7 linked regions of the Homo sapiens genome follow. The protein of the gene in region 4 purifies or fractionates together with the protein of the main gene of each other region. This does not show direct contact. Each region holds a gene or a part of one and is shown on either strand. Other genes may lie near its edges.

Region 1 (4,046 bases), on a different chromosome or scaffold from region 4:
ACGTGAGTAGTATAAAGCAAGAGAAGAATATCCTCTTCAATACATGGGAAAAGAATGGCTACTCTTTACAGTCACAGGCAAAACGGAAATGATAGGATGGAGATTTCAAGCCTAAAAGCACCTGTGAGTTGGCAGACTCACCCAGGAAAAACTATGTGACAGCAAATACCACACTAAGAAAAGCCATTCAACCAGATGAAAAGTGAGACAAACATAGGGATTAAAAGTTACAGGAATGCAGAAGTGAATGGGATGGAGCATAATCTGTGCAAAAATGTGGAAGTCCTTGGGAACAAAGGCCCATCAAGATCCTACATGATTCAATGTGAAATGTGTATTTGGTAACAACTTTTAAAAAAAATCTCATAATTTATGTGTTTCTAAGGCAAGGTTAATAGCAGATGAAGAACAGAGACTATCGCGTAGTTTGATGGCCTTTACTCTAGTATTTCTTATCTTTTTCTTGTGTTCGTTCTTCTCAGTGCCGGCTGAACAGGTGACTGAATCTAAAGGTCAGTGCTCGCCTTGGCGGTCAACACCCTGATGCGGGCAGAGTTGCAGGTCTTGCAGAGGATGTGCCCATCCAAGGGGTAGCAGCCTTGGTTATCTCCTTCAGACAGGAGACCACCGCAATCCTAGAACAGTAAAGACAGATGGAAACGACATAAGTAAAAACGTTAAGTACACATGTGGAGAACATCATGATTGAGCTTTCTATTCAAGGCCTCCATAATGTGGCCACTTACTATCCTTCCTGCTTTACATTCTGCTAATCCCCTGTATCCTTTCTCCCAATATATAACATAGTATATCTTGAATGTAATTGAATTAGAGATTGGGGACATAAATATAAATGGACATAAATATAATCCTCCTAAGCTCACTTGATATGAAATACAGGTATAAGAAGAGAAGAGGCCACCCATCTTGGCTCCCATGTAGAAGTTTGCTGCCCCCACTCAACAAGAGAAAATAAGAATGTCCCTAACCACCGATGCATTTTTTACCCTTTACCATTAGTTTAAGGATCTCTCAAAATGCATGCACAGGTACAGGAATGGAATGTTTTGGCCATTTCTGGCCTAGAGCAAAGGTAGACTGATGTCTGCCAAGCAGAAGGGCCACCAGTGGGTTCGGTGTATTTACTTCAACTGCAGTAAGAAAATAAAATCCTAAAGTTTGTGGGGAGTAGTGGTTTGCTGTACTTTCTAAAGGAGACAGCATTGTGGAGAGCAAAGATTGCTAGTCCAGGGGACAGGCCTCCTGAGCACCACCCACAGTTTTGCTACAGTCTGCCTCAATGCACACAGGCCGACTGCCACTCTGAAAATAACTTCTGCCTTTTCTACCTTACCAAGCTGTTAAGAGGATCAAAGAAGATAATGGATCAAAAAAAAAAATGCAAAGAACTGCATAACTGTAAAGGAATATACTACCGCTGACAGCTCCTCTTAGGGTCCATTTTGAAAAGTGTTATATAACAGTTAAATGCTGGCCTTTGTCTTTGGAGAAAATAGAAGTTTCTTTGGAAAATAAATACATAGTACTTCATCAAGAGGTGTGTGTTTGCTAACTTTAGTATAAACTCTCAAAGGCCACAACAGCTATGAACCTCGCCTCTGCTATCTACCATGGTGGCAAGGAGGTCAATGGAGTTCATGTCTTCATTTGACATAGAATGAAATTTAAGTTAACGGGGTATCCAGAACACAATAGCAGCAATGGTTATACTCTGCGGGAAGTTTGGCTTTACTGAAAAGAACATGCAGATATACTGCAGCTCTAGAGGCGTTCAGGAAACTGAGCAATTAGTAGTGCATGCTAACAAATAAATAAATCTCCATGACTCTGAACAAGAAGTTCTAACCAAAGCCTCAGAGCCAAAGTTAAATGTTCAATAACACCATTTCTCACTAATTTAGTATTTCACAATTTACAATGTCCTTTAATATACAATTTTGTATTTCACTCTCACAGCCATATTTGGAGGAGTTAAGGACTTGAGTCCTTTCTTCCGGTGAGCAAGCAGACTGAGAGAGGTACAGTGACTTATTCAACAGCATGTGCTCGGAATACTAGTGTCAAATCTAAAACCCAAGTCCTATGAGTACAGGCACTAAGGCCGTTCTGAGATTTAGTAATTGCTACATCTATGTAAACCTAGCTCGAACGAGCCTTTCAACGCCTGCCACAGACTGGCAGGGCAGGGCTGTCAACCAGACCTCGCATCGGTAGCAGTGAACATGGAAATCTCGATCCAAAGCCACAATACGGACAGTCTCCTCCTGGCCCGGGGCTGGCATAATAGGCTCCTTGCACACAGAACATCGCGGGGCAAATTTCCTGAAAGTGAAGAGAGAGTTCTGGTTAGATACTGCGCGTCGACACTGAGGTGGGACGCAGAGGTAAAAGGAAGAGGTGGAAACTGAGAGTCGGTATACCTGCTTCCTCATCCGTAAGGTGAGGGAGTTAGACTCAGGGACTGTGGAGGTTCTTCCATCAATCGGTGGTAAATATTGTGATATTTGGCGAGGTGAGAGAGTGAGCGTGTGAATTGCTTGGGCATGAAGAGCATCTAGCATCTCTTTCCTGCATGGTGCGCGGTATGAAATTCATCTTTAGATAGATTCTGAATGCAAACCCTGTGCTTGGGATAGGCTAACTGGAGGAGAGAACAAAGTCCTGTCCAGCCCCTATTTGTTTCTGACTTTTGTTTCTAGACTTTTGTATGCACTCCTTAGGTCCTAGAAAAATAGTCTGAGGTTGGTATCTTTGCCTTGTTCCCACCTTTTAGAGCTTCTTTCTTGGAAATTTGCCTTGACTTCTAGGAACTGACATAAGAAGACTCAAATACATAGCTTTTCAAAAGGGCAGAGGTTAGTGCGTTTAAATATACATTACACAAAACTTAAAAGTGGCCAAGTCTGCATTTCCTACATTTTTTATTGTGTTAAACTTTTGCTTAAAAATTAAAAGTTAAAGAGCTATCAAATTCTTTATTCTTTAAAGGATTTTAGCACTGTTAAAGGGTGAGTGTATACTAACACACATACACATACATATACATATAAATATGCATATGCATATGTTTTTGAGGCTGCTGGTAAATACTTTTAATACTTATTAATTTCTTAGTATTTCTCAATATGATCAATGGTACCTAACAATTTTTTTTCTATGACAGGTTAATTGGCTGAAAATATAAGCCATGTATCTCTCTGTATCTTCTGGAAATTGGAGATGGTATTTGTGAAGGTATGAAATGACATATTATTTGAAATGGACCTGGATAAGAACTGAAGAGATTTAAAAAAAGAAAAACAGACTGTGACTCAGTTTTTTCATGGTACTGGTTTTAAGATAAACGATGTTAAAAATTTATCTATTTGTAGTGAGACTTAAAAAGAAATAATGATAATAATCTAACTCTTTGCAGAGCACGTTACGGTTGTCAAAGCATTTCTACATACATTATATTCTATATGTAGGTAATTAATTTTCCTGGCAGCACCCAAAAAGCATCTGTATGGCTGCAATCTAAATAAATATGAATTAAGCAGCAGATCAATTGATTGCTGTGAAAGAAAAGTTAGAAGGATCATGGTACCACTGCAGCAGTAATCAGAGTTGTTATAATTGGTATTTTATGCAAGAAGTTTATATTCAGTGGCAAAAAATTGCTTTGGACTACCAGATTATTTTTAAATCTGGGTCATCAGTGGTGAAATAAGTAGGCTTCTGGGATCAACTGCAAAATTTCCTTTCCCCAAACTCTGTGGGAGCAGAAGTATGTTTTCCTTTTCAGTGTATCCATAAGCCTTCTCCAATTTCCCCAAATAGAATTATTTACTCCTCTAAGATAAGAATTCTGTCATTGAATTTATCCATTTTGGTAGTAATTATTTGGATATATTTATGGGGCACTAAACTCTAAGTTTCCACAAGATAGGACTTTGCTCCATCTCTGAGTCTCCAGGAACAACCACTGTGACTGGTGCAGAAAAAAAAAGTTGGGCTGTATCTAATGAAATGAATCTGCCATATTT
Region 2 (4,046 bases), on a different chromosome or scaffold from region 4:
CTGGAAAATGAAAAGACCCAGCTGCTTTCCTAAATCTGCCATAATCACCATTAGTGAAAGGTGTCTTGTAACTTAATTGCTTTCTTTCAGGTGGCTTTTTTTTTTTTGTCTGTTCGCCATGAAACCCTTCTTTCATACTTTCTCCCTCACCTTCCAAACAACAACAACTAGGTATCTAACAGCTAATCAGTTCTGTTTTTGCCTCTGTTGCTGACTGGTGTTGGGTAAACACGAGGCTGCTGGGTCAGCCATGTGCTGTTGAAATGGTTGCTCTGATACTCACATTAAAATCCGTTTGATCAGTAGTGAGCAGTTGATTCTGTTTGATTCTTCTGATTAACCCCAGTTGGTGTCTCCTAGATCTGTCCTGCATGTAGGGCTGTGGCTTCTCACCTTGAGCTTCTCTGCACATCGTGGGGCAGCCTCACAGATGACCTACTCATGCGCTTCTCCTTCTCTTCCCCCTCTCACTGGTCCTTCCCACAGGGCTCCAGCGGGGCCCCACAGACGAGCAGGATGCCTGTCCCCATGAGTGCCAAGAACAGACCCGGAACCCTGGACAAACCCGGCAAGCAGTCCAAACTGCAGGATCCCCGCCAATATCGTCAGGTAGTTTTACCTTAAACCCACTTTTGGATGGACGCTATTTCAGTTAAGCAAGTCACTGACTTAGTTTATACCAAATATTGTGCTTTCTTTGTAAGATAACGGTTTACATAGACATCCTGGATCTGGGGGCATGAAGAAAGTCTAAATAAACCTTTGTTACACTTTTTTACCACGCTTTTGCATGCTTGCAATAAAACATCTTTTACTTTGTGACTCCAAACTCCAAATTTTAACTGTTAACACACGGTGCCAGACCAGGTGGCTTTTCTTTGGTGAATGTAGTGTTTCATCTGAACACCTCGGGAAGCAGAGACAAACCAACCTGTGGTTGAACTGCCCTTAACGTCACCACTACTAACGTCTATGTTGACTGTATTGTGTTAGAAGCACATTAACACTCCGTCACAATGCCCGACCCCCACCCCAGTAATTATCCAGACGCATGGCCCACCTGGCACACAGGAAATGGTAGAGCTGGAATGATGGGACTCCTCTCACAAATGTATTCTTCCTTTCCTCCTTTCCCGTCCATCCTTTGCTATGTACATGGGGGGTTTCTACCAGGTCCAGTAGAGCACAACAAGACTTAGCTCAGGCCTTGAACTGTGTTTGGTTGGTTTTCTTTGATTGAATTATTCTCAGAAGGGCTGTGTTGCCAGGCCCTGTGGGTTGATCATGTGACCGCCTTTCTGACAAAATGTCTCCCGCCATCTTTATTTGCAGGCTAATGGAAGTGCTAAGAAATCTGGTGGGGACTTTAAGCCTACTTCCCCCTCCTTACCTGCTTCTAAGATTCCAGCCCTTTCTCCCAGCTCTGGGAAAAGCAGTTCTCTGCCCTCTTCTAGTGGTGACAGCTCTAACCTCCCTAATCCACCTGCTACTAAACCATCGATTGCTTCTAACCCTCTCAGCCCCCAAACAGGACCACCTGCTCACTCTGCCTCCCTCATCCCTTCTGTCTCTAATGGCTCTTTGAAGTTTCAGAGCCTCACTCATACAGGTAAAGGTCACCATCTTTCATTCTCACCGCAGAGTCAAAATGGCCGAGCACCCCCTCCTTTGTCATTTTCCTCCTCCCCTCCTTCTCCTGCCTCCTCCGTCTCACTGAATCAAGGTGCCAAGGGCACCAGGACCATCCATACTCCCAGCCTCACCAGCTACAAGGCACAGAATGGAAGTTCAAGCAAAGCCACCCCATCCACAGCAAAAGAAACCTCTTAAAGGTCAAATCCTATTAGGCACAAGTCGGAGTTACATTTAAAAAAAATTAACAGTCTACAACAACTGTTTTCACAAGAGAATGTAACATATTGCTGTATCGTTTGAGGCTTAATGCTAAATATGTGCTAAATACTGGATTAATAGATTTCAGTAAAGCTCGTTCGTTTTGTTTGGTTTTCTTTTTACCTAGTTGCTATAGTGTCTACAGTCTATACTCAATACCTATAAAATGCAGTAAGCATGTGTTACAGAAAGAGGTTCTGGTGGGAGAGAAAGGTGCGTGTGAGACAGGAGAATTGTCTTAAGCATATAAAACATGTATGATTCCAGAATTTTAGTATGTTTTGTATAAAACTATTTTTCATTACGGAGACTAGAAGTGAACAGAGAATTACACAAGTGTGACTATACAAATTGTAAAACAGATACTATAATATTTCCTTTTATTTTAGTGTTATTTAGCTTTATTACAGATTTCTATTTTTGTCAAAACTTCATGGTTCCTTTCAAGATCTTTTTTGCCAAAACATTTTGATACTATAGCATTGTACATTTGAAAGTAGTGTTCTAGACTATAAAACCAATGAACTTCTACATGAGCCCTACAGACAGGCATGTGTAGAAGGCAATTTATCAAACCTATTGCACTGCCATGAAAAGTGTGTATAATAATTTGCTAGCCCAAGCAAGCTAGTTTTCTTTGCTTGCTTCTTTTCTTTCTTTTTTCCTTCCTTTTTTTTTTTTTTTTCTTTTTTAACATGTTGAGATTCTCTAGTTGTTTTCTTTGGCGTATCTAACCCCTTCTTTTGTTTTCTGAGACCTGGTAACCCACGCTCTTGCATTGTGGATTTTAAAATGTATACTCTGTACGGTTCTGTAAACCGAAAAACTTTTGTAAATATATAAATATACATAGACATAAAAATACTGTATGTGACAGCACATAGAGTAGTTTTCCCACACCAAAGTTAATTTTTATGCATGCTTTAAAAGTATATATCGGGACCGGCAGAAATGGAAGTATCCATACATTTTTAAAAAGCAACAAGTTTGCACAGCTAGAGTGTTTTTGTAAATAAATGTATTTGTATAACACAGTCATGTAATATACAGAACTATAAGCAGAGACTTTGCAAAACTAAATAAAGGGCTGCATGCTTATTATTTTTTGTACCTTGTCACTATAACTACTTCCTAGTCAAAGAACGAAATGTAACTGTTACCGAGTTAAATGTTTTTCCGCTTTGAGGGATGTAACCACATCCACTCAGAGGACACTACTTTTCTGAAAGCTCTGGGGTGACTAATGATGAGTTCCTAATAAATTAATTGCAAGTGTGGTGCCTTGGATGTGGCCTGTTGGCTCGCTTTCTTCTCTGTGGCTTATCAAGGTGTAGATGACAGAAAGCAAACCTGGATACAGAGTTTCCACCCTCAGTTCCTGGAGGGGCTCTTATTATTTTCTCTCTTTTTAAAAAACTTCCAGTAGAAGTAAAGTGGAAATAAAATGTCTTTATCACTTGGCTTTTTTTCTTTTGAGTCCTCAACTTAAAAAATTATTGTTGGCCTAGAGGGAAATACGCTTACACCATATGTTTTCATTTGTTAAAATGGGAAGAAGCCAGGCACGGTGGCTTATGCTTTGTAATCTCAGCATTTTGGGAGGCTGAGGCAGGAGGATCACTTGAGGCCAGGAGTTCCAGACCAGCCTGCGCAATATAATGAGACCCCATCTCTACCAAAAATAAATAAATAAATTTAAGTTAGGTGGGCATGGTGGTGTGTGCCTGTAGTCCCAGCTACTCAGGAGGCTGAGGTAGGAGGATGGCTTGAGCCTGGGAGGTGGAGGCTGCAGTGAGCTATGATCACACCACTGCACTCCATCCCAGATGACAGAGCAAGACCCTGTCTCAAAAAAAAAAAAAAAAAAAAAAGGTGTGGGGGAAGAAAATTAGTGAAAACAATACCAGGATTATGAATTAACCACAGGAACAATCTCAGGAAACTACTTAGATTTTTCACCTCAGAATGTTTCATTTGGTGATTTCATGTAAAAAGCAAATATTTTTGGAACTCAGTTGTTCAGTGTTTCTGAGTTTCAGGCTTTCTTACTTCAGGATGCCTCCGCCAGAAATATTCATATCTCTGTTCATTATGTTAATGGCAGTCCCGTGTTTCAGGTGGCACTTAGGAAAGTATTTAGGGTCCAACATTTC
Region 3 (4,046 bases), on a different chromosome or scaffold from region 4:
CATGACCTTAATCAAAAGCTTCCTTTATCGGTATCTGTTTAAATTGCTCTAACAAGTTACCATTTGTCTGGCATGAAGGAGAAATTGAGTCTTTAAGTAGGAATGAGTTTATTTCACCACAGTCGTTAAGCAGGATGTGATGTTTATTAAAATTCATAATTTATTTTTCTGTATCTGTGTGCTGCCCACCTTGGCCATTAGCGGTTGGAGCTGCCCCTCTTTGTTGTCACTGTCATTTTTTAAACATAGTATATGTATTCTTTTTCTTTTTTTAGTGACAGGGTTTCACTATGTTGCCCACACTGGCCATGAACTCTTGAGCTCAGGTGATCTTCCTACCTCAGCCTCCCAAGTAGCTGGGACTACAGGCACATGCCACTGTGCCCAGCTTGTCACTGCCAATTTTAATCTTGGCATGTTTGTCCCATTGCTGTATTGCCATGTGAAAAATTTTGCCAACAGCCAGGAGACCTCTGTTTCCTCTGTAAAGTTGAATCTTTCTTCCTTGTAATGACTTAATAGTGATTTCTATCAAGTGGAGAAGAAATCTTAAAACCGTACATACTGTTTTGGGCTCTCTGGTAGGTTTTAGGAGGGGAGCTCCCCAGGAGGTAAATGGGAATGCCATCCAGCTTTGGCAAATTCTTATTGAAACTAATGAGTTTAATAGACTGACCTTATTACTCCTATTTACAACCTCATTACAAAATTATCTGCTCAATGTTTGCTAAATTCTTTATCGGTCTTGAGAAGCTAAGCCTCCTGTTTAGTTCCTGCTGCAGCCGTGACAATTGTCTCCCTTTCATATGAAAAGAGTAGCCTCAAAGGCCCCTGAGTAAGAATAAGTAGTGGCTGTGGCAGTCTGTGGACATCAGGAATAATCTAGGGAACTTTGGCTTAAAGCATGTCAAGCTAAGAAGTGGTCTCCTATACCACGTGAATAAAAGAAAAAAATAAGACTTATTTGCTTATCTAGCACACTTCTTGATCTTACAAGGAATTGCCTAGTAGGGTGATATTTTACTCCCATTAACCTCACTCTTAGAACCTGGAAAGGATAATGTACATTAGGTAACACCTTGGGAGGAAGAGTAGGAGGGAAAAATCTTTGTGCCAAAGTCTGGTACTGGAATTTTACACCAGAGTCACCACTGATTTGCTTAGTGAGCCTTCCACTCAAATTTGGTTCTCCCTGTCATTTTTGCCCAGAGATATTCTGAAGACAGAAGGAAACAAAAGATCTCTCTTTGAGATCTTAGGGTGGCAGGAACCCTGTGTGCCCAGGAATGTTATTTGTACTATCTCCGTGCTCATTGTTGGGCCCTCAGGCAAATCTAACAGCCTGGCAACTCTTTAGAGCTGGAGCAAGGGCATACCCTCCTTTGAGAAGGATACCGGGTTTTCAGACTTTTTCATAGGTAGACCTATGAATGTCCAGATTGCTGGTGAAAGGAGTAGCAACTGATTTAGCATTGTAGCTTGTGATTAGTCAGGGCCCTGGATCCCTGGGCTGCCCAAGAGGAACTTTAGGGCTCTGCTTAGGGAGCTGCCCACATTCCTGGTACCACCTGTTTCTGTATTAAGTAGTACAGGTTGAAGGCATGAAAGCAACTGAGTGAAGAGAATCCATACCTTTGGAAGTGCAGTTCTTTAGCATGTGGGCACTCTGTTGCAGAGTGCATCTCTCTCCTCTGCATGGGAGAATAGATGAGAGGCCCTAGAACGGTCTTGAGCCATTTAGAAGGCCTTTCCCCTCAGATTTGCTGCTCTTGGAAGATTTCTCTGGAAAGGAACCAACCTCTTCCCAAGGCTTGGAGTGTTAATCTATTTATTTATAGCTTTTTTTACCCTAATTTTCTTTTTCTTTTTTTTTTTGAGACAGAGTTTAGCTCTTGTTGCCCAGGCTGGAGTGCAATGGCTCGATCTCGGCTCACCGCAATCTCCACCTCCTGGGTTCAAGTGAATCTCCTACCTCAGCCTCCCGAGTAGCTGAGATTATAGGCATGTGCCACCACGCCTGGCTAATTTTGTATTTTTAGTAGAGACAGGGTTTCTCCATTTGGGTCAGGCTGGTCTTGAACTCCTGACCTCAGGTGATCCGCCCGCCTCGCCTCCCAAATGTTGGGATTACAGGTGTGAGCTACCGTGCCTGGACCTTGATTTTCAAACTAATACATTCTTGTGTCTCACAAATGCAGAAAATGCAGGAAAATGCAAAACAAAAGAAATATCAGTTCACCTCTCAGTTTCCATGGTTACTCATTCTTAGTGGTCTGGGTTTTCTGAGTGGCACTCTCTGGCACTCTGTGACGTTTGCCAGATTGGTTCATGTAAGCAAGTCAACTCGATTAAGAGAATTGGACAGCCACCATAAAGGGAAGGGCAGATTTTGTGCCTCTCATACAGGGACATTCTCAACCAAAATTTATCCTTGCTAACTTATTAGAAGCCAGAATTTTGGTTTTAAGTTTATTCTTTCACACATGTTCACCTGTCTTTTCTTTCTTTTGTAAAATGTTGTATCCTTGAAAATGCATATTAACCTTATCTATTAGATTTTTAAGCTCTCTAAGGGTTGTTACTTTTGCACAGTACCCCATTATATGTAGCATGATCTTTTATAGAATAGGTGCTGAACCAGTATAGTAGTCTGATCTTTTAAACGGTATCAGTGTTCTGAACTATGACAGATGTCCTAATTCAACCTACTGGTGGGGAAGCTAAATCATAGCCCAGGAGGGCTCCGTTCTCTGTTAAGATATAGAGATCCCATTCTCATCCTTAAACTTCTGAGGCCTGAACAGCTTGCACTATTTGTAAGAGGAAATGTCTCAAGGAGTCATATACTCTGTAGGTCCTTAGGAAAGTGATACTTGGCTGACACATCTTTACATTTACTACAGTAATCATTTAATTAATTTCTATTAAATGGAAAGCCTCAGTCCAGGTGTTGGGTACAGACTGTGACATAGTTCCTGCTCTCCAGGAGTGACCCTGTCCAATGGGGACAGCAAGTGGCAAACAATAACTGGCTCTAAGGCAATGTGATGAGTGCTGTGCCAATGACACTGGTGTTACTGGAGCACAGTGGAAGGGATAATCAGTTAGGCCTGGAGTGCTGGGGAAAGCTTTGTTCTTCTTGAATGTCAACCCTTAGCAGGTTTTGGTTCTGGTAGGGAAATGGATGGATCACTTAAGATTGGCTTCAGAATTATAATGTATTCTTCAAGTTAGAAATACCTGAATAGTGACCACCTCGGGTCTATTAAAAAATGTTTTACACACTGCCGTCTGTGACTTTCCTTCAGTACTTCTCACAAGCAGCCAAGTTTTGAATCAACACCCTTTCTGAGTGGTGTCCCTTCTTCTTCAAAGGAATTATGCCACATTGCTAAGTCAATATTTTCATATTTATTTTAAATTTTAATAGATAATATATTCACATGGTTCATAAGTCAAAAAATATAAAAAGATAGCCAGTGTAAACTTTCGTGGTATAAAAATGTAAATCAAGTTTCACTTTTGCTTTCACTAGTTCCAAGTAATTGTTTTGGTATTCTGTCTCCAAATGCTAACCCCTGAATGTGTGAATAATCACTTTTATTGGTCTTCTTGTATATCGTTCCTTCCAAAAGCTCTTTTTGCAATTATAAGAAATAAAAATGTTAGCCTTATAATGGAATCGTTGAAAATGGAATCAGGCATCAGTGTTTGGATATTGATGTTCTAATAATAACCACCAGCAGCAGAAATAACAATCATATCTTCAGTAAATACACTTTATATTTGACAATGTACTTTCTTTTTTTTTTTTTGAGATGGAGTCTCACTCTTTTTGCCCAGACTGGCATGCAGTGGCGCAATTTCGGCTCACTGCAACTTCTGCCTCCCGGGTTCAAGCAATTCTCCTGCCTCAGCCTCCCAAGTAGCTTGGATTACAGGCACGCACTACCACACCCAGCTAATTTTTGTATTTTTATTAGAGATAGGGTTTCACCATGTTGGCCAGGCTGATCTTGAACTCCTGACCTCAAGTGATCCGCCCA
Region 4 (4,046 bases):
TTCTTCAGGGCTGGTTCTTTACCTGTGGCTTGACTTTATGCTGGTAATACAGAAATATTTTATGCCAGTAATACATAAATGATGTACATTATAAAATAAACAATATCAACACAGAGATTTATAGAGGTAAAAAGTCTTAAGTTTTCTTTTTCCCGTCTTATTGTTGTCCTATTCCTATTTCTTTCTTCAGAGGTAACCATAATATAGGGTGTATCCTTCTGGATTTTTTCCATTTAATACTGTAGATGAAATATATAACCCTGTATGTTAAAAAAACCATTTCATGAATGCCTACTAGGTACCAGGTACTATTTTAATCACTAGGGTTGCAAAAATAAGAGACAGACGCTTTCAAGATGTTCATAGTCTACCAGGACAAGCAATTACAGTGCAGTGTGATAAGTACCATGATAGAGTCAGTAATCAGTGAGGGATGTAGGAGCCTCATGCATGACCTAATCCATTCATTCATTTGCTTTATTCATTCAGTACACTTCAGAGTTTTAATATGTGCCGGGGATACAGAGATAAACAAGACAGATACCTCTGTCAGCCCCCGATGAGCTTGCTGTGCAGTTCAGTCTCAAAGAGTTTTAACCGTTGGTTACAATGTATTGTTTGATATGGGATCTGAAAGGGGCCAGCAACAAGAGCTCAGAGGAGGACCATAAACCCAAGCTTAGGGACGTTCAGAGAGACAGGAAAGCCTCCCAGAGGAAGCACCATGAGAAGGAATTGGTCGAAGTCTGGGTTGAGGAGAGGGTGTACAGAGAGATGGTCAGGGAGGTGATGCACTGGAGCAACCACAAACACCAGGAGTTCAGTCCAGTGGGGGTGGTTGTGGGCAAGGGCAGGGAAGTGGCAAGAAGTGAGGGAGGAGAAGTAAGGAGGGACTGTGCCTTGTGGGGTCTTGTGATTACTGTTGTGTGGAGTTCGGAGACCTCTGTGGGCAACAGGAAATGGTTGAAGAATTGTAAGCAAAAGAGGGACACGGTCAAATTTGCCCTTTGGAGAATGGATTAGAAGAGGGAAGGCTTGAAGCAGGGAAATTTGAGGAGGTAGAATTGCTGGGATTTGGTCATTGGCCGTGTGTGTGTATGTGGTGGGGGGAGTTGGGGCAGGGAGGAGTTCAGGGCAGTGTCCAGCTCTGGCTGGGTGGTTGGGTGATGGCACTGTCCTTAGGTGGGGACAGAGCAGCATCCATTTTGGGGAAAAGATTATGGGTCACACTTGGCTGGGTTAAGTTTCAGGTGCTGAGGGGACAGTGTGTTCAGTTGGCTGCACTAGGGATCCAGATAATCAGGAGTTGTCTGGATTAGAGAGACGCATGTGAGAGTTATTAGCTGTCCCAGACTGTCTCAAACAGTTTGAGAGTTTCCCAAACTATCAGCTAAGGTGCTACAGCAAACAGGGAGACTGGGGGATGTTTCACATTGTTGAGGAAAACACATAGTTCCGTCTCTTCAAGCCTGTGGAAACTACTAGCTCAAGATAGTTAAAAATGTCTAGATTAGATTGCACTCCATTCCATTCGATGACCTCATGTTTGTAAAGAAGGATTTTTGGTGGTTGCTGTAGCACGTGAAAATCAGTGTAGAAAAGGAAATGAGGGAGGCCATTGTCCAGTCTGACTCCAAGGTTTGAGAGAAATTGTGCAGTGCTCAACAAGTGTACACATACTGTATTAGTAAATACTTGTGGTTATCTAAGAATGAAATAAAAATGCCATTTTTTCTCTCTATTAAAGTGTACTTTTTTCAAGTTGGTACCAAGTTGTTAGGACATTAAGTACTTACGTTTTTAACATTTTCTTTGCTCAATAAGCATTTGTTTTGGCCTGAGACTCCAAGGGTGCGGTGAACAGAGAAAGTTTTGGAACTCCTGCCTTTGCCTGTGCAGTATTTGTTAATGGAAGCTGTTGGAGTAGATGAGGTCATTTGAGGAGTGTGTATAGAGTAAGAAAAGGAGTGGTGTGGAGTGAGATCTGAGGCACTCTTGTGTTTGAAAGGGAAGCAGATAATAGGCTCCCACACTGGGACTAAGAAGGATGGGGGTCATGGTGTCCGAGGAAACCTCAGCAGGCAGGGCGTGCTCAGCTGCTGCGAGCTGTTAGTAATACAGGGGACACTAGAGGCAACAGTGACATGACAGGGATGGGAGGGGGAGGCCAGTTTGTATCAGGATTTAATAGTGAGTGAGAGTGAGGGAGTGGAGCCCAGCATGTGTAGACAGCAATGCTCAAGAAATTTGATGCTGGTGGTTAGGGGTGGTTATAGGGAGGGCAGATAAAGGGGGAACCCTTTGGTTTTTGTTTTTTAAATGGGGGGATTTGAGCATGTTTAAATGCTGGTAAAGAACCAGGAGAGGGTAATTTCAGAGTTTCCATTGGAGTTAGCCCACTAGATAGCGGTTTCAGAGTTTCCATTGGAGTTAGCCTGAGGACATGATGAATGATCTTGGTGAGGAGTCTGTGGAACCTCATTGCTGTGGATTGCAGAGTGAAGGGTGTTGAGGGAGGGAAGCTGGTTCTTTCCCAAACTTGATTATGAAGAGGAGAGAATGACATTAACTGGAGAGGGGCATCTGGTGTAGGCTGATTTCCTCCCCTCCCCTCCCCTCTCCTCCCCTCCTCCCTCCCTTCCCCTTCGCCTCCCTCCCTTTTCTTTTCTTTTCTCTTTTCTTTTCTTTTCTTTCTAGCAGTGACTTTATTTTCTCTTTTTTTTGCTGTTGTCTTAAGAACACCTTTTGTCTTCCTTTCTCAAGACATGCTCTTCTGAGGACTGGTTGTTCCTTTGCAGGGCGGTTGCTTCCCACCCTGGACTTTTCCTAGGTGCCATTGTGTCTCCAGGTCGTGATGTCTTTGTGGCTGACTGTCCTCCTTTGCTGTCCTGTTCTGACAGAATACTCTCTCCTGTCAGTGTTTTTTCTGCTACTTACCTCAGCACCAGTTTTGTGTCAGATCCTATCCGCCTATCTTCATAGATGTTTTTATTTTTATTTTTTGTAGAGATGGTGTTTTGCTATGTTGCCCAAGCTGGTCTTGAACTCCTGGGCTCAAGCAGTCCTCCCACCTTGGCCTCCCAAAGTGTTGCACCGCCCCCGATGTCATAGATGTTTATAGATTATAATAATTTTTCCGCACTAATGCCTGGTGTGGTGGCTAACACCTGTAATCCCAGCACTTTGGGAGGCTGATCACCTCAGGTCAGGAGTTCGAGAACAGCATGGCCAACATGGCAAAACCCTGTCTCTACTAAAAATACAAAAATTAGCCAGTTGTAGTGGCACACACCTGTACTCCCAGCTTCTAGGGAGGGTGAGGCAGGAGAATTGCTTGAACCCGGGAGGCAGAGGTTGCAGTGAGCTGAGATCGTGCCACTGTACTCCAGCCTGGGCAACAGAGTGAGACTCCATCTCAAAAAAAAAAAAAAAAAAAAAAAAGAATAGTTTTTCCATACTTAGATTTCAGCCTTAATCTTTGGAGCCAAAGATGCTTCTGTTTCTTCTCTGTGCCTGCACATGTGCCTCTTCTCTGGGAGATTAGCTCTTCTGACTTTTTTTTTTTTTAAATTTTAAAACATTTTAAACATCACAGACATTCTAGGGTATTTCTCATCTTTTAGGTCTCCTGGAGCTTCTAGGCCTTGGCTCTGAGCTCAGCATCTGGGATGATTTCTCAACTTTGTACTTTCTGAAATTTCCCTGGGATCTTTTCTCAGGGTGCCCTCTGACCTTGGAGCAGTGGTCTTGAAATTGATCTAAAGATATCTTCTGTTGTGTTATATGTTCTTGAACCTTTTTGGTATTTTAATCTTTTCTTCCTTTTAGTTTTTCCTTAAATACTTAAGTCAGCCCACACATGTTTGTATGCCAACTATGTCTGAGGCACTGTTCTAGTTAGCAGTGATAAGAATGTTTAACATGACCAAGCTGCTGCCCTCAGAAAGCTTATATTCAAGTGAGGTAAAACAGGATAGATTATCTTGCTAACTAGTTCACAAACTCCTTGTTGGCAGGAACCACATAGGGTGGTGCCTTGTATATAA
Region 5 (4,726 bases), on a different chromosome or scaffold from region 4:
TGTGTCCCGGGGCAGGGGCAGGTACGTACCGGATAGTTGTGCCGATACCTACACATGTCCCTCGTGGCTCGCCAGTTTCTGGACCCTGTCATTCTGGACTGGGAAGAAAAGAGATGGGATTAGGACCCCCATGGGAGACCCCCAAGTGAGTCCCAACGTGGTGAGGGCTGCAGGGCCTGGGCCAGCTGCCACAGAGCTGTCTTTAAAGGGCGGGGGTTTCATGGCTCCTCCCTCTCATTCTCCTGCCCTGGCTCTTTTTTGGGGGTTCCCAGTGGGGCAGATTTGGGCCTCAGTAACGCATCCCAATACCCTGCACAGAACCAGAGAGGGCTGCGGTAGCCAGGTGGGGGGCTGCTCCTTCTCTAGGCCCCTTTGGGACTCCTGGCTTCCACCTTAGGGTGGCCCCTGGCTGACATGCACCTCCCCTGGGGTGTGGCCCTGACCCTCTCCTCCTCCTAGGCCTGCTGGCCACCTCCACCCTGGCTTTAGCCTCTGTTCTGTGCCCCTGGAGACTCCCCCTGCTTTGTACACTAAAGTCACCAGGCTGTGTTCTTGGGGGCAGTGGCCTCACCACCTGTAGCCCCAGAAGGGGACCCAGGTGCTTCTGGCAGGGTCTAATGAATGAATGCCCCTTCCCTGCCCAACCCCACGCCTCACTGGCCACGGTGAGGGCAGGCCCTGAGTCTCCAGCCTCCAGCCCTGTCTAGTGATGGCTTCTCAGCAAGATGTCAGGTCCCCTTGATGCCCCAAGCCCTTCAGCCCCCATCTCTGCAGGCCAAGCATCATGGGGCTGAGCAAAGGGCCGGAAGTACCTAGTGATGAGGATGGTGGGACACAGCCCTGACCTTGTGATGAGGGTGGGGGGCCTGGGGCTGAGCCTCACTCGGTGGGTAGGGCAGGAATGGGCGTATTTGTCCAGGGCAACAATTGGGACCCAGGATCCTGGGGGAGTGCTAGAAGGGGGGTTAGGAGGCCCGGTCAGCCACTGTATCCCCTGGCTCCCCGCTGAGCTCCAGCTGGGACCTGGCGTTGCCTCTCTGCCTGATTTTTCTTTCTTATTTTTTTCCCCTCGAGATGGAGCTTCATGCAATCTCCACCTCCCAGGCAATCTCCACTCACTGCAACCTCCACCTCCCAGGCAATCTCCACTCACTGCAACCTCCACCTCCCAGGTTTAAGCGATTCTCCTGCTTCAATCTCTGGAGGAACTGGGATTACAGGTGCCCATCACGCCTGGCTAATGTTGTATTTTTAGTAGAGACAACAGTTTCACCATGTTGGCCAGGCTAATCTTGGACTCCTGACCTCTGGTGATCCGACTGCCCAGGCCTCCGAAAGTGCTGGGATTACAGGCCTGAGCCACCGCCACCGACCTCTCGGCCTGATTTCTCAACAGGGCCGCTGGTGTGGTTCTCTCGCCCCGCCTGATCATCAGTTTCTACTTCTCCTTCCTGGGGCCAGCGGGAGCCTCCCTGGGTCAGTTCTGGAGGCTGGGTCCTGACTGGATGTGGCCACACAGTCAGCCCACAGGTGCATACATGACACTGCCCAGGAAAAAGTGAAACAGCCCCGCCAGGGTCCAGCGCAGGCAGCTGGGGAGGCCTGAGGGGTCCAAAGGGGAAGGGGAGGGGCTTGTGGACAGAAGCCACAGCAGGAGGCAGAGGGAAGAGGTCAGGGGTCACGGGCGCCTGGCAGGATGGTCAGGGCCTCTGAGCACCGCTTCAGGAGAGCGGCCTGAGGAACTCCAGTGAGGAAAGCCCGTCAAGAGCCCACCCAGGGGTCACACCGTCCTGTGGGACAGAGCCAGACCCCACCCCCCTGCCCAGCCTGCCTGGCCGCTGCCCTCCCGGCGACAGGGCGGAGCCCCTCCGTGCTCTCTCACTGCCCGCTCCACCATGGCCAGGCGCAAACGCAAACAGTGCTGGGTGCCAAGGGGAGAATCCATGCGGAGCCGTCGAGTTCCATGCACTTCCCGGCCCTCCGCAACCCGGGCAGCTCAGCTGGAAGGCCGCTCCCAGATCAATCCCAGCTCCCCGACAGGGGGGCCGGACTGCGACAGTGTGGCGTTCCCAGCGCGGCAACAAAAGTAACCCCGGCGATGACAGGCGCCCGGCGGTAACAAAAGTAACAAGCGGAGGCCCCGTCGGCCCGCCCCGGGCTCCCGCAGGTGCAGACGCGAAGCCTCCCAGGCCAGACCCGGCCCGGGCCCCAGCCCCAGCCCCAGCCCCAGCCCCAGCCCCAGGCCGCGGGGCCTGCGCAGGGGCCGCCAGGAGGCCGAGGCGCGGGCCCGAGGCGGGAGGGGTTCCATCAGGGGCGGCCACGGCGGCTGGGGGCGGGACGCGCCCGAGGCACCCCCGGGGGGAACGGCGCCCACACACGATGGGGCCCGGGAGGCTCAGCTCCGCTGTCACCCACGCGCGGCCCCCGCACTTCCCCGCCGGGCCCTGGGGCTGGGGGTCGGCCGGTCTGGGGGGGGGTCCCCGGGGCTGCGGGAGCTCCAGGAGGCTCCAGGTGTCTCCGCCCGGGATGGGGGGGTCTCCCGTCCACGCAGCCGGGCGGGGGGCGCCGGGGACCCCAGGCCTCTTCCGCGCCGCGGGGCCGCACCTGGAACGAGCTGGGCCGCGCCGCCCGCGGCTCCTCCGACTCCTCGTCCTCGTCCCCTGCGTCCGCGTCCCTCGCGCCGGCGGCCTCGCCGTCCTCGCAGTCCTCGTCCTCCGCGTCCTCCGCATCCTCCTCGTCCTCCTCCCAGGTGGAGTCGCAGTCGGGGTCGTCCATGCTCGGCGGCGGCGGGGCTCGCGCTGGAGGCGGAAGCGAAACCGAAAGCAGAGGAAGCGCGGGGGGCGGGCGGGGGGAGGGGACGGAGCGGCCCAGGCCCCGCCCGCGTCCGCGCGCAACGCCCCTCCCTCCCCGGGACGCCCGCCCCGCGCCCCTCCCTCCCCCGAGAATCCCCCAACGTCCGCCCGGGAGGATGCCCCTCGCGGAACGCCCACCCCCACCCCACGATGCCCACCCGGGAGGATTCGCCCCACCCCGTCTCGCAAGGATGCCCGCCCTAGGAGATCCTCCCTCCCGAAAATGTCCCCAAAGCCTGCCCGCCCCCCAGAGGACGGTCTCCCCGGAAGATGAGCCGGGTACCTAGGAAGGATGTCTTCCCGACGATGTCCTCCCAGCAGGATTCTCTCCCCGGAGGATGCCTGCCCCGCAGAGAATCCCCTCTTCCAGGAATATTTCTGTCCCCCAAGAGAAATCCCCCCAGAGGATGTCCCCATCAGAAGAATGTCCCTTGGAGGATAACCCCCGGAGGGGCCACGTGTCCACAGGGGCCTCTCTCCCTAAGCTGGGTGTGTAGGGGTCTCTGTCCTTCTGCTGCGGGCTGGGGGCCTTACTCAGCTCCTGGAAGCTGCTGGCGGACCCCTGTCCCTCCATAGGCAGTGCAAAGCACGGCCGTTTTCTTTTCAAAGCCACCAGGGGAGTCTTTCTCTCTAGGGTGCCGAGTCTTATATAACCAGGATGACATGGGCAAGCCGTGGCTTCCTTCACCTTTGCCGCCATCTCTCAGTTGTAAGAAGGCACTTAGGGGAGAGGACCACACGAAGCCTGGGCCACCGGGAGGGTCACCCTGGGGACTGTTCAACACAGCTGATGCCAGTTCAGCGCCTCCTCAGGGCCCTCTCTCTAAGCACTGGCAGATATGGGGCAACACAAAGTCACTTTCACCTGCCATTTCCCAGCACCGCGGGTCCCTTGCTCATCCACCTTTGACATCTGCTGGCAGATACATGGCAAGGTTGGTGACCTCTTGAAATAAAAATCAGGAGTGGCCACTCCAGATAAATTTCTTCTGTAACTGCTATACCAATTCATTTCAAAACATTTAGGTAAAACTAAATCTGGATTTTGGACTTGGCCATGAGGATAGCTCCTCGCAGAGTTGTCCCTGTAATGATGGTGGTGGAAAGGTGGAGAAGGCCCCAGCCCAGCCCCTAGGGGACACTGCCATCTCCTAGCCCTGCAGGCCTGCTGGGCCTGGGAACTGGTGACATTCCTTGTACTGTGTGCCAGGGACAGCCGTGAACGCAAGTCTTCCAATCCTGGCCACAAGTACAGGTTAAGGACCCTCTGGGTGCTGGGCCCTAATCTTTGCTGACCTGTTGACCACTGTTAGCAGGTGCAGTCTCACCTGGCTGGAACCTGTGGACATGCATCACACTTTCTTGAAACGACAGTGGTGATGCCCCGAAGTTCTGGGGCGCTGGACATTTCTGTAAATCAACTTAGTGCAGTGGCCAGGGCAGGTTTCCCAGGGAGCCTGAGTGAGCTGCCTGACCTCCTTGTTAGATGATTTACAGGTGGGATCTGGTTGCAGCATCAGAATAGACTGTGAGGTGGAGTCGGGGGGCTCTGATGGGGACATTGATGGGTGCTGGGTGGTTGTATAGGGTTTGGGTGATCTGAGACTTGGGTGGTCAGGCTGCCCCCTCCACTGCCCCAGAAAACAGAAAGACAAGCATACTGGGTGCTGACAACATTGTTCTACGGGGACAGCATTCCCGCTGCTACCTACTGTCGGCAGGACTATAGAACCACTTCCCTAAAAAGAGTATTAGAGACATTGCCCAACTTCTGTTTTACAAATATCACCACACCAAATTGCTTCTTTAGTTGCTTTTGTGTTGTGTGTGTGTGTGTGTGTGTGCAGAGCTCATCTCGGGGGCGTGCTAATCCA
Region 6 (4,046 bases), on a different chromosome or scaffold from region 4:
TGAAGAGCCCTGGGTTTTATCTTCCCCTGGAGGCTCATAATTGGTATCTGGGGACTGTTCCCCAGAGCACTCTCCTGTGGGTTTCACTGCACCAGTCTCAGTTATTTTCTCAATGTCTAGATTGAGGTCCTGCTGAGCATCTTTATCACAAATCTGATGAACATCATGCTTTGGTGTTCTTTCTGTAGTTTCTGAAGTATGTTCTTTTGATATGTCACAGCTCTCATTTCGGCCTTGAATAGCCTGTAATTATAATACATAACAAGCATGCATTTTATTTTTCAAAAAGAATCAAAATAGAATAGATTTAGTTATTACTTTTTAGAAACTGATGCGTGGCCTCTGCTAAACACATCTCTTAAAGTGGTGAATTTCCCACTACATCTTTCTCTCTTCATTCAAATGTTCAACATACTTATACGTTCAGTAAGTGGCCCCTATGGGCAAGACACTGGGGTTAGGCATTTATCTTGAAGACAAACCCTTCGGCTCAATTACAATTTGTAATGTATTTAAATTTCATATTTTTCCCTTGCTAAGAATATTCAGGTAGCCTAAATATGAAATCTCTTTGTAATTATTAAATAAGAGGCTAACAAAATGCTCAGCTTCCACCTTCAGCATTTATGATACTCTTTAATAAGGCAGTAAAGTTTCATAACCAGATTCCCAGTCCAAGGACTTAATCCCCAATCCAGCACTTACTGTACATTATTGGATAAATTACATATTTGAGCCTCACTTTCCTCTCATCTGTAAACTGGGGATCTGCTGTTGCACCTACACCTGCCATCACCTCACCATGACCTGCCTTCTCTACCTCACAGAGATAGACAGAGGAAATCAAGTGACATGCATACACTATATAGCATTATTAATTAAGCTAGCAGGCTAGAAAGGACAAAGTTACAAGCAATTAAACAAATATGTATTCAATTTTTTAAAAGCCCTTTTAAATGACTTATACCAAATCATATTTTTGTACCACAGTAAATTGTTAGAGAGAAAACTGTTTAGTAATACATAAAGAATCTGCTGTATTTAGTTTCATGACGATAATGCCATAACATCAAAAATAGTCTGAAAAGTGGGAGAGATTAAAAATTTACATATTACCATTTGTAAGTTCTTAATTATTTCAGTATACTTTATTAATGCACAAAGGGTGGAAACACACATTCTAAAGACTTTCTGACTCCATAATATAATTTTCTCCAGACTTTAAAAACATCTTTAGTAATATTCTATATAATGCTATGTAAATCTAATCCCTATAGAAATTTATTCCTCAAATAACGTTTACTCATTTTCCTCAAGTTCTGGTTTGTTTTGAAAATATTTTGGTGTATTTTATTTCCTTGAACCCTAAAAATATTTTAACTTAGGTTTAATGTACATTTCAATTAGACAAACATTTACTGAGTGTCCACTAGTCATGTAAACCGAGAAATGGCATTTAAATCCCAGGTACTTACATCTTCTGTGTCGATGCCAAGCAAAGACCGAGAACTTAAGTCCAGACCTTGTAGCTGGAGTCGTGCTACTTCCAGCTCAAGTGACAGTTGTTCCGTCTGTTTCTTTTCTGCCGCCAACTTGGACTCCATCTCCAGAGTCACGCTTGTCAGCTTCTGTTGCCACTGTTCATTTTCTGACAAATACTGCTTCCTAAGGCAGTCAAGCTCTTGCCTTTCAGAACTTAATAACTGCTCGAGCTCTTGAATTTCCTTATTTTTCATAATCCCTTGACTTTCCATTTTCTCTTCTAGCTTCTCGAGGGACTGCCGGTACACCTCACAGAGGGACTCAAGCTCTTCAACACCCTTCGCTGGGGCCGAAGGGGTTTCTTTCCTGGTCAGATTCTCCTCCTGCAGACTGCTGCAAAATACTTCATCTACACTGCACTGGTTTGCTGAAACAGCCCCTTCTAAATTACTCAAAAGAGACATATCTCCTGTCTGTTCTAAAAGAGCTCTGTAAAAGGAGGAGTCTCCCAAACTGCTAAGACTAGAGCTGTCAGGCACACAAGAGGATGACAGGGATGGAACGAGCCCCTCCTCCAAGCCCAGCTGCATCTCCTTCACCAAGTCACCTTGAAAGTTTCTCAGATTCGTTGACAAGACCAAATTTTCGGCCTTTAATGAGTCAACATAGGTCTGCAGCTCTGACATTTTAGAGCTCATCTGACAGTGCTGATCATGTAAAATTTTGTGTTCACTTTGTAAAGATAAGAATTTCTCTTGCAATTCGGCAAAGTGCATTTGAACTTCTTTGTCTGACAATGTCAAGTGCTCGTAGGAATTACTCTCGTCCAATGGAGCCAAAGACACAGGGTGCTGTTCATTTGGTTGTTCACCAAATTCACCTCCTGGTATGTCTTCCACTAACTCACCATGGAGAAGACCACTGTCATCATTTAATATTTTAACTTCATTTAGTAGTTTCCCTACCTCTTCTGCCATTTTCCTAGTTGCTGTGATACATTCTGACCTTGAATCATTCAGCTCAGTTACGAGTTCATACTTTTCAGCCTGCAGTATTTCACATATTTTCTCTAGCTCATTCAGCTTGTTCATTGTTGTTTGCAGAGAGCACTGAAGGTGTGCATTGTCGTTTTGACTTGTTGACAACTCATGAGGCCCTGAAATATACTTTTCTTCCGCATCTATTTCACAGTCTTTAAGGCCACTAATTTCTTGTGACTGCATGTCTTGCAAATTGCTGGTTTCAAGATCTCCTCTAATTGTCTGTAATTCATGCTGCAGGCACTCCTTCTCCTTCTCACTTTCCTGAAGTTTTAATTCCTTATTTCTTAGCATAGCTTCTAATTGCACCAACTGCGCATTATAACTATCTAGAGAAATTTCTTTAACTTCAAGATCCATCTGAGGTTTAAAATTACATTGATTTCTCTCACTCTCTCTTTCTTTCACAGAGTTCCTAATTGGTTCTGATTCTAGATTTTGACATTCATGTTTAGTCTTCATTACCTTCATCAGCTGTTCATTCTCTTGTAATAAGTCATTAACTTCCTTTTGCATTTTGTTTTGTTCTTCCTTTAAAGTCATGATTTCTTGCTTTAAACCACCAGCCTCGCTCTTAGAATTGTTTTGGTTATCTGTCATCTCAGATCTCAGAGCTTGCTGCACTGTCTCCAACTCTAGCATCAGATTCTGATTTCTTTCTTCAGCAAATGCTAATTTTGTTAAGAATTCTTGGTGTTCCTTTGCAAATGCTTCCTTTAGCTGTTCCAACTCATTTTTCCTATTTTCACAAAGACTAGTGCATTCATTTAGCAAGCATTCTAATTTAGAATTCTTTTCCTGTGCTGCTTTGTATTTTTGACTAAGATCCTCATATGCATTTCCGGTTTCTTCACATCTTTGTAGTAAAATAAGTTTTTCTTGCTTGTACTGATCAGATAACTCTGAAATGCTTTTCTCCCTTTCATCTATATAGTTTGCAAAACTCTCACTTTTCTGGATTAAGTTCATCTTCTCTTGATTTAAGGATGCATTAATTTCCTTAAGAGTCCCATTCTCTTGGGTCAGCTCTTCAATTTCCCTTTTATTTAGAGAAATGATGGAACTCATTTCTTTCTTCTCCAAGCTTAGGGTTTCGGATAAAAGTTGTAGCTCCTTTAGAGAGTCTTCAAGTAGATGGTTGCTCTTTTTTAATTCTTGAATCTCTGCCTGCTCAGTTTCTACCTTATCATTTAAAAGTTGCAGCTCTTTTTCCTTGTTCTCAAGGGCACTTAAGGTTTCAGCAACAACATTCTGGTGAGCAGAAGTGTCTTCCTGTAACTTACTAATGCGCTGACTTGTTTCAGCCACAAAACTTTGATGCATCTGTTCTGCTTTCATGAGATTTTCTTCTATTTCTCCTTTGATTTGCACCAACTCTTCACACTGCTTTTGCAGGTCTGAGTTCATCTGTTTTTGAGACTCTAATGAAAATTCAAGTGAATCAACTCTATTTTGTAGGATGGCAGAATTTTTCGGACTTTGGTCTGCTTCTAAACGACATTCACTCCTCTCTGAAGGCATGCT
Region 7 (4,046 bases), on a different chromosome or scaffold from region 4:
AGGCCATCTATGCTAGTATTTAAAATAAATGTCATTATGCTAATACTTAAAACTATTAACTATTATTACCATTAAATATTGAAAGGTTTCACCCAGCTATAAGTGTGTGTACTTTGGAAAGTGCGTTTTTTTTTGGGGGGGGTATTTGTGAGTATGTTGTTTTTTTTGTTTTTGTTTTTTTATTTGTTTTTCCTTAAACCAACTTTCTGAGAAATATGTCCATTCTTTAATACTGTCTTTCCAAAGTGTAAGATTCCCTAATAGGGAGTCGCTAAAATGTCTATCTAAATACAGTCTATCAAGCAAGAATTCTGTGACTGATTTTTTTTGGTAACAGTACTTTGATTTGATACTTGTATACAAGTTGGTTGAACATATTACTCTGGTCAGTTTTTAAAGGCTGACTATGGTTAATTTGCATATTTTAGAAGTACATTTTAGGGGTAATACTAGATCATATAGATAAATATTATCACCAACTACCATAGCTAATATTCCTTTCCTTTCTGCAGGTCAATTTTTCTGTGGAAATAAATATTGTGATAAAAAAGAAGGCTTAAAGAGTTGGGAAGTTAATTTTGGTTATATTGAGCATGGTGAGAAGAGAAATGCACTTGTTAAATTAAGTAAGTTGATTTTAGGGGGTATATGATTGATTCTTCCAAGTTTGTCTTTAATTTAAAAATATATAGACTTTAAAATTCAAATGCAATTTTTAACATATCTTTCTGGAAGTGCTCTTTTTTCTTGGAGCTTCCCAAAGTCTCAAAGAACTTTTCAGCCTCAGTTTTTTACATTTTTAGCATTACAGTGGTGTTTCAGTAAAAAGAATTCTAATGTCAAATGTAAACTGGTAATTTGTAGAGTGGGGCTCCGTCCCCATTAACTTGAGAATGCCACCACATTACATAGCTAAGAGGCACAGTATCAGAAAAGGCAGTGTAATCTCACATTAGCTGATTACTCAGTGATATCGTTGTAGCACAGATAATAAACAAATTCACTCTGTTTCACAGTATTAATAAAGAAAAACTTTAGGAAGGCATAATTGTTCTTGACCTCAGTCTTAAAACCATAGGGAATAAATACTCCAGAATACAGCAGTTTCCCTTAGGATGCATGTTTTAGAGTCTGTCATTCTTTTATTTATTTTTTAAGTTAGTCTTCATGTGTCAGCTGTTCCTCTAGCCTTCTCTGGGTCCTAAGTAAATGTGCCTTCAGAGTTTTCTGCTCATACCTAATAAAAGTCAAGAATGTCCCCACATGCTACGTATGCATGTCAATACAGACTGATTTCTGAGTTCCTTCTGGAAGTGCTCAAGAGGAAAAGTCAGCCAGTGTGAACTGAGATTAAGGCAAAAAAAAAAAAAAAAAGAGACCACAATTATGGAACTATTTGAAAAGCTCCTTTGCATTTGAAAGTTCTTAGAGCACTTCAGAGGAAATGACTATACTCACATTATTATTAGATATCTTTGATGTGAGACACATGTTAATGTGCCTGTGGAACACAGTTTGTTTTTGGAACAAATTGACAACACATTTTTCTAAAATAGTGTTATTTTCAATTCCTCAAGCTAATATTTTTATTATATGTATGTGTGTATATATTTGCATTTTTGAGGTGATGAAGGTCAGATTGTTTTCTTTGGATTGTTTGTTTACCCTCTTATAGTAATGGAATATAAAGAAAGTGCGAATTTATGATATTAAAAGTAGATTAGCAGTGTGGTTATTCAAAATCAGCCATTCAGTGGTGTCTTTTCTTTTTAGGGTTATGCCAAGAATGTTCCATTAAATTAAATTTCCATCACAGGTAATGTCTTTTAAAATGCCATTCTTAATGTTTAGTAATCCAGGATATAGTCATTTACCTGCACTAAGTATCTAAATGTAGACTTAGGTGGTTGATGGTTGAATTGGTTGATCATGTAGAAAATGTGGCATTGTCGTATGGCTACATAAACGAGGGGTTTAGAAGTCCGCTATGCCCTATTCTTGCCAAGCAGTTTTAAATGTAAAGGCCTATGTGAGGTGGTAGATGGATGTTAGAATTTTTAGTTTGGAGCCAATGTTCTGACACTTTAATATTAGAAATTATGTTGTAAAGCAGACTTCATAAAGCAGTTCTTGTGTCTCATTTAGACAGTGTTTTAGCTGGAGTTTGCCATTCTTACAAAGGATTAGACACCTCTATACTCATTTTAAATGTTAAAATCAAGAACAGGCGCGGTGGCTCATGCCTGTAATCCTAGCACTTGGGGAGGCCAGTTTGGGTGGATCACTTGAGGTCAGAAGTTCGAGACCAGCCTGGCCAACATGGTAAAACCCTGTCTCTACTGAAAATACAGAAATTAACTGGGCGTGGTGGCAGGTGCCTGTAATCCCAGCTACTGGGGAGGCTGAGGCAGGAGAATTGCTTGAACCTGGGAGGCAGAGGTTGCAGTGAGCCAAGATTGAGCCACTGCATTCCAGCCTAGCAACAGAGCAAAACTCTGTCTCAAAAAAAAAAAAAGTTAAAATCAGGCTTTTATTGAATGAGCTTTAATGTATCTGCCACATTGAATGTGTGGGAATACCAGTGTCCTGCAGTTATGGGGTTTGAAATCAGACCTCAGTTTTTAATCTCAGCTTCTCCGCTTACTAGGCTTCTTCTTGGGCAAACTGCTTAACCTCTGTAAGGCTTAATTTTATCACCTGTAAAAATGAGGCTACTCAGGCTATTGTGGGGAATAAATGAAAGTGCATGTAAAGTGCTTGCCACAGTACCTGGCATTAAAGATGTTCACACTGATTCTTCGCAACTTGCCTTTGTGATGGTCAGGTTTTATGCGCTGGATAACAGTTAAAAGTTCAGCTTTTGCAACTTTATAAAATGTATACATAAGCATATTAATTTTAAAATAGCTTTCTTTTTTTTAATCACATGGGTTGTCAAAAAATAACAGCTTTGTTATAAATGTGCCTATATAGTATTTTAGCTGTTAAAAATAAATGTTAAATAATATTTTTAATTCTTAAAATTAGCAGGATTATTTTTATTATTTTCATTATTCTTTATTTTTTTGAGACAAGGTCTCACTCTGTTGCCTAGGCTGAAGCACAGTGGTGTGATCATGGCTCATTGCAGCCTCAGCCTCCTGGGCTCAAGTGATCCTCACACCTCAGCCTCCAGAATAGCTGAGACTACAGGAGTACATCACCAAACCTGGATAATTTTTTTTTAAAGTTTTTGTAGAGATGGTGTTTCCCTATGTTGCCCAGGCTGGTCTCAAACTCCTGGACTCAAGCAGTCCTCCTGCCTCAGCCGCCCAAGGTGCTGGGATGATAGGCATAAGCCTCCACACTTGGCCAGAACTTTTTTGGATTACTGGAATAGCCTAAACCTTTATTTCCCCTTCCCATCAGTGATACTGAAAGAAAGCAGGGATTTGTTTTGACCTTGACTTTTGAGCTTCATTTCAAAATGGAAATGATTCTTACAAAATATGCAAAAGTGGTTAATGCATTAAATACTATTATAGCATTTAGTAGATGTACTTTAACTTGGAAAATCTACTGAACAAGTTTTTTGAAAGTAATCTTTTCCTTTGTCTCTATTCTCCTTGCCAGTCCCAATTTCAGCATTATCACTTTTTCCCATTTAGTATTTCTTTTCTTAACCTATTAAAATTAATTAATTGTTTGCCAACCTTGTAAACCTGCTCTAGAAGAGATAAAGCTGCAACAATAAGAGTATAAATTATAAGTGGCCTGATGTTGATATATGAATTAACAATAAGCCCTTTCCATTTTCATTCCATTATGCTTCTACTATATTCCTTTATTCTTAAGAGTAGAAATTTCTATTTACTGGTGGCTTAGAGCTGTTCAGCAGTTTCTTCTTCTTTGTGTTTTTTTAACATGTAGGTGGATATGGATTATGTGAAGGGAAATGAGGCTTTTTTTTGTAATTTAGTTTTAAATGGCTAAGTGATAGAATATAGAAAGAAAGAAACAAATACAATTATAATTTGTATTTACTATGGTCGTATACAGAACTTATA

What was found.
Region 1: the proteins of WASF3 (region 4) and LPP purify together in Homo sapiens (affinity purification with mass spectrometry; 2 studies listed by BioGRID and IntAct, with this or other methods). This does not show direct contact.
Region 2: the proteins of WASF3 (region 4) and KIAA1217 purify together in Homo sapiens (affinity purification with mass spectrometry; one large-scale study listed by BioGRID and IntAct). This does not show direct contact.
Region 3: the proteins of WASF3 (region 4) and CMTR1 purify together in Homo sapiens (affinity purification with mass spectrometry; 2 studies listed by BioGRID and IntAct, with this or other methods). This does not show direct contact.
Region 5: the proteins of WASF3 (region 4) and OGFR purify together in Homo sapiens (affinity purification with mass spectrometry; one large-scale study listed by BioGRID and IntAct). This does not show direct contact.
Region 6: the proteins of WASF3 (region 4) and CENPF purify together in Homo sapiens (affinity purification with mass spectrometry; one large-scale study listed by BioGRID and IntAct). This does not show direct contact.
Region 7: the proteins of WASF3 (region 4) and FRA10AC1 purify together in Homo sapiens (affinity purification with mass spectrometry; one large-scale study listed by BioGRID and IntAct). This does not show direct contact.

What each region holds. Positions count from the first base shown.
Region 1 is NC_000003.12:188,870,940-188,874,985, reverse strand, and holds part of LPP (lipoma-preferred partner), read right to left. Parts: intron 2,344-4,046; coding exon 2,223-2,343; intron 636-2,222; coding exon 507-635; 3' UTR 1-506. UniProt on the Homo sapiens protein: May play a structural role at sites of cell adhesion in maintaining cell shape and motility. In addition to these structural functions, it may also be implicated in signaling events and activation of gene transcription.
Region 2 is NC_000010.11:24,544,495-24,548,540, forward strand, and holds the end of KIAA1217 (sickle tail protein homolog), read left to right. Parts: intron 1-486; coding exon 487-609; coding exon of another isoform or gene 610-624; exon of another isoform or gene 625-1,332; coding exon 1,333-1,830; 3' UTR 1,831-3,349; downstream 3,350-4,046. UniProt on the Homo sapiens protein: Required for normal development of intervertebral disks.
Region 3 is NC_000006.12:37,439,557-37,443,602, forward strand, and holds part of CMTR1 (cap-specific mRNA (nucleoside-2'-O-)-methyltransferase 1), read left to right. Parts: intron 1-4,046. UniProt on the Homo sapiens protein: S-adenosyl-L-methionine-dependent methyltransferase that mediates mRNA cap1 2'-O-ribose methylation to the 5'-cap structure of mRNAs.
Region 4 is NC_000013.11:26,560,238-26,564,283, forward strand, and holds part of WASF3 (actin-binding protein WASF3), read left to right. Parts: intron 1-4,046. UniProt on the Homo sapiens protein: Downstream effector molecules involved in the transmission of signals from tyrosine kinase receptors and small GTPases to the actin cytoskeleton. Plays a role in the regulation of cell morphology and cytoskeletal organization.
Region 5 is NC_000020.11:62,802,909-62,807,634, reverse strand, and holds the start of OGFR (opioid growth factor receptor), read right to left. Parts: upstream 2,801-4,726; 5' UTR 2,776-2,800; coding exon 2,605-2,775; intron 2,168-2,604; exon of another isoform or gene 2,048-2,167; intron 99-2,047; coding exon 30-98; intron 1-29. UniProt on the Homo sapiens protein: Receptor for opioid growth factor (OGF), also known as Met-enkephalin. Seems to be involved in growth regulation.
Region 6 is NC_000001.11:214,640,754-214,644,799, reverse strand, and holds part of CENPF (centromere protein F), read right to left. Parts: coding exon 1,476-4,046; intron 244-1,475; coding exon 1-243. UniProt on the Homo sapiens protein: Required for kinetochore function and chromosome segregation in mitosis. Required for kinetochore localization of dynein, LIS1, NDE1 and NDEL1.
Region 7 is NC_000010.11:93,681,826-93,685,871, reverse strand, and holds part of FRA10AC1 (protein FRA10AC1), read left to right. Parts: intron 1-512; coding exon 513-626; intron 627-1,773; coding exon 1,774-1,816; intron 1,817-4,046. UniProt on the Homo sapiens protein: May be involved in pre-mRNA splicing.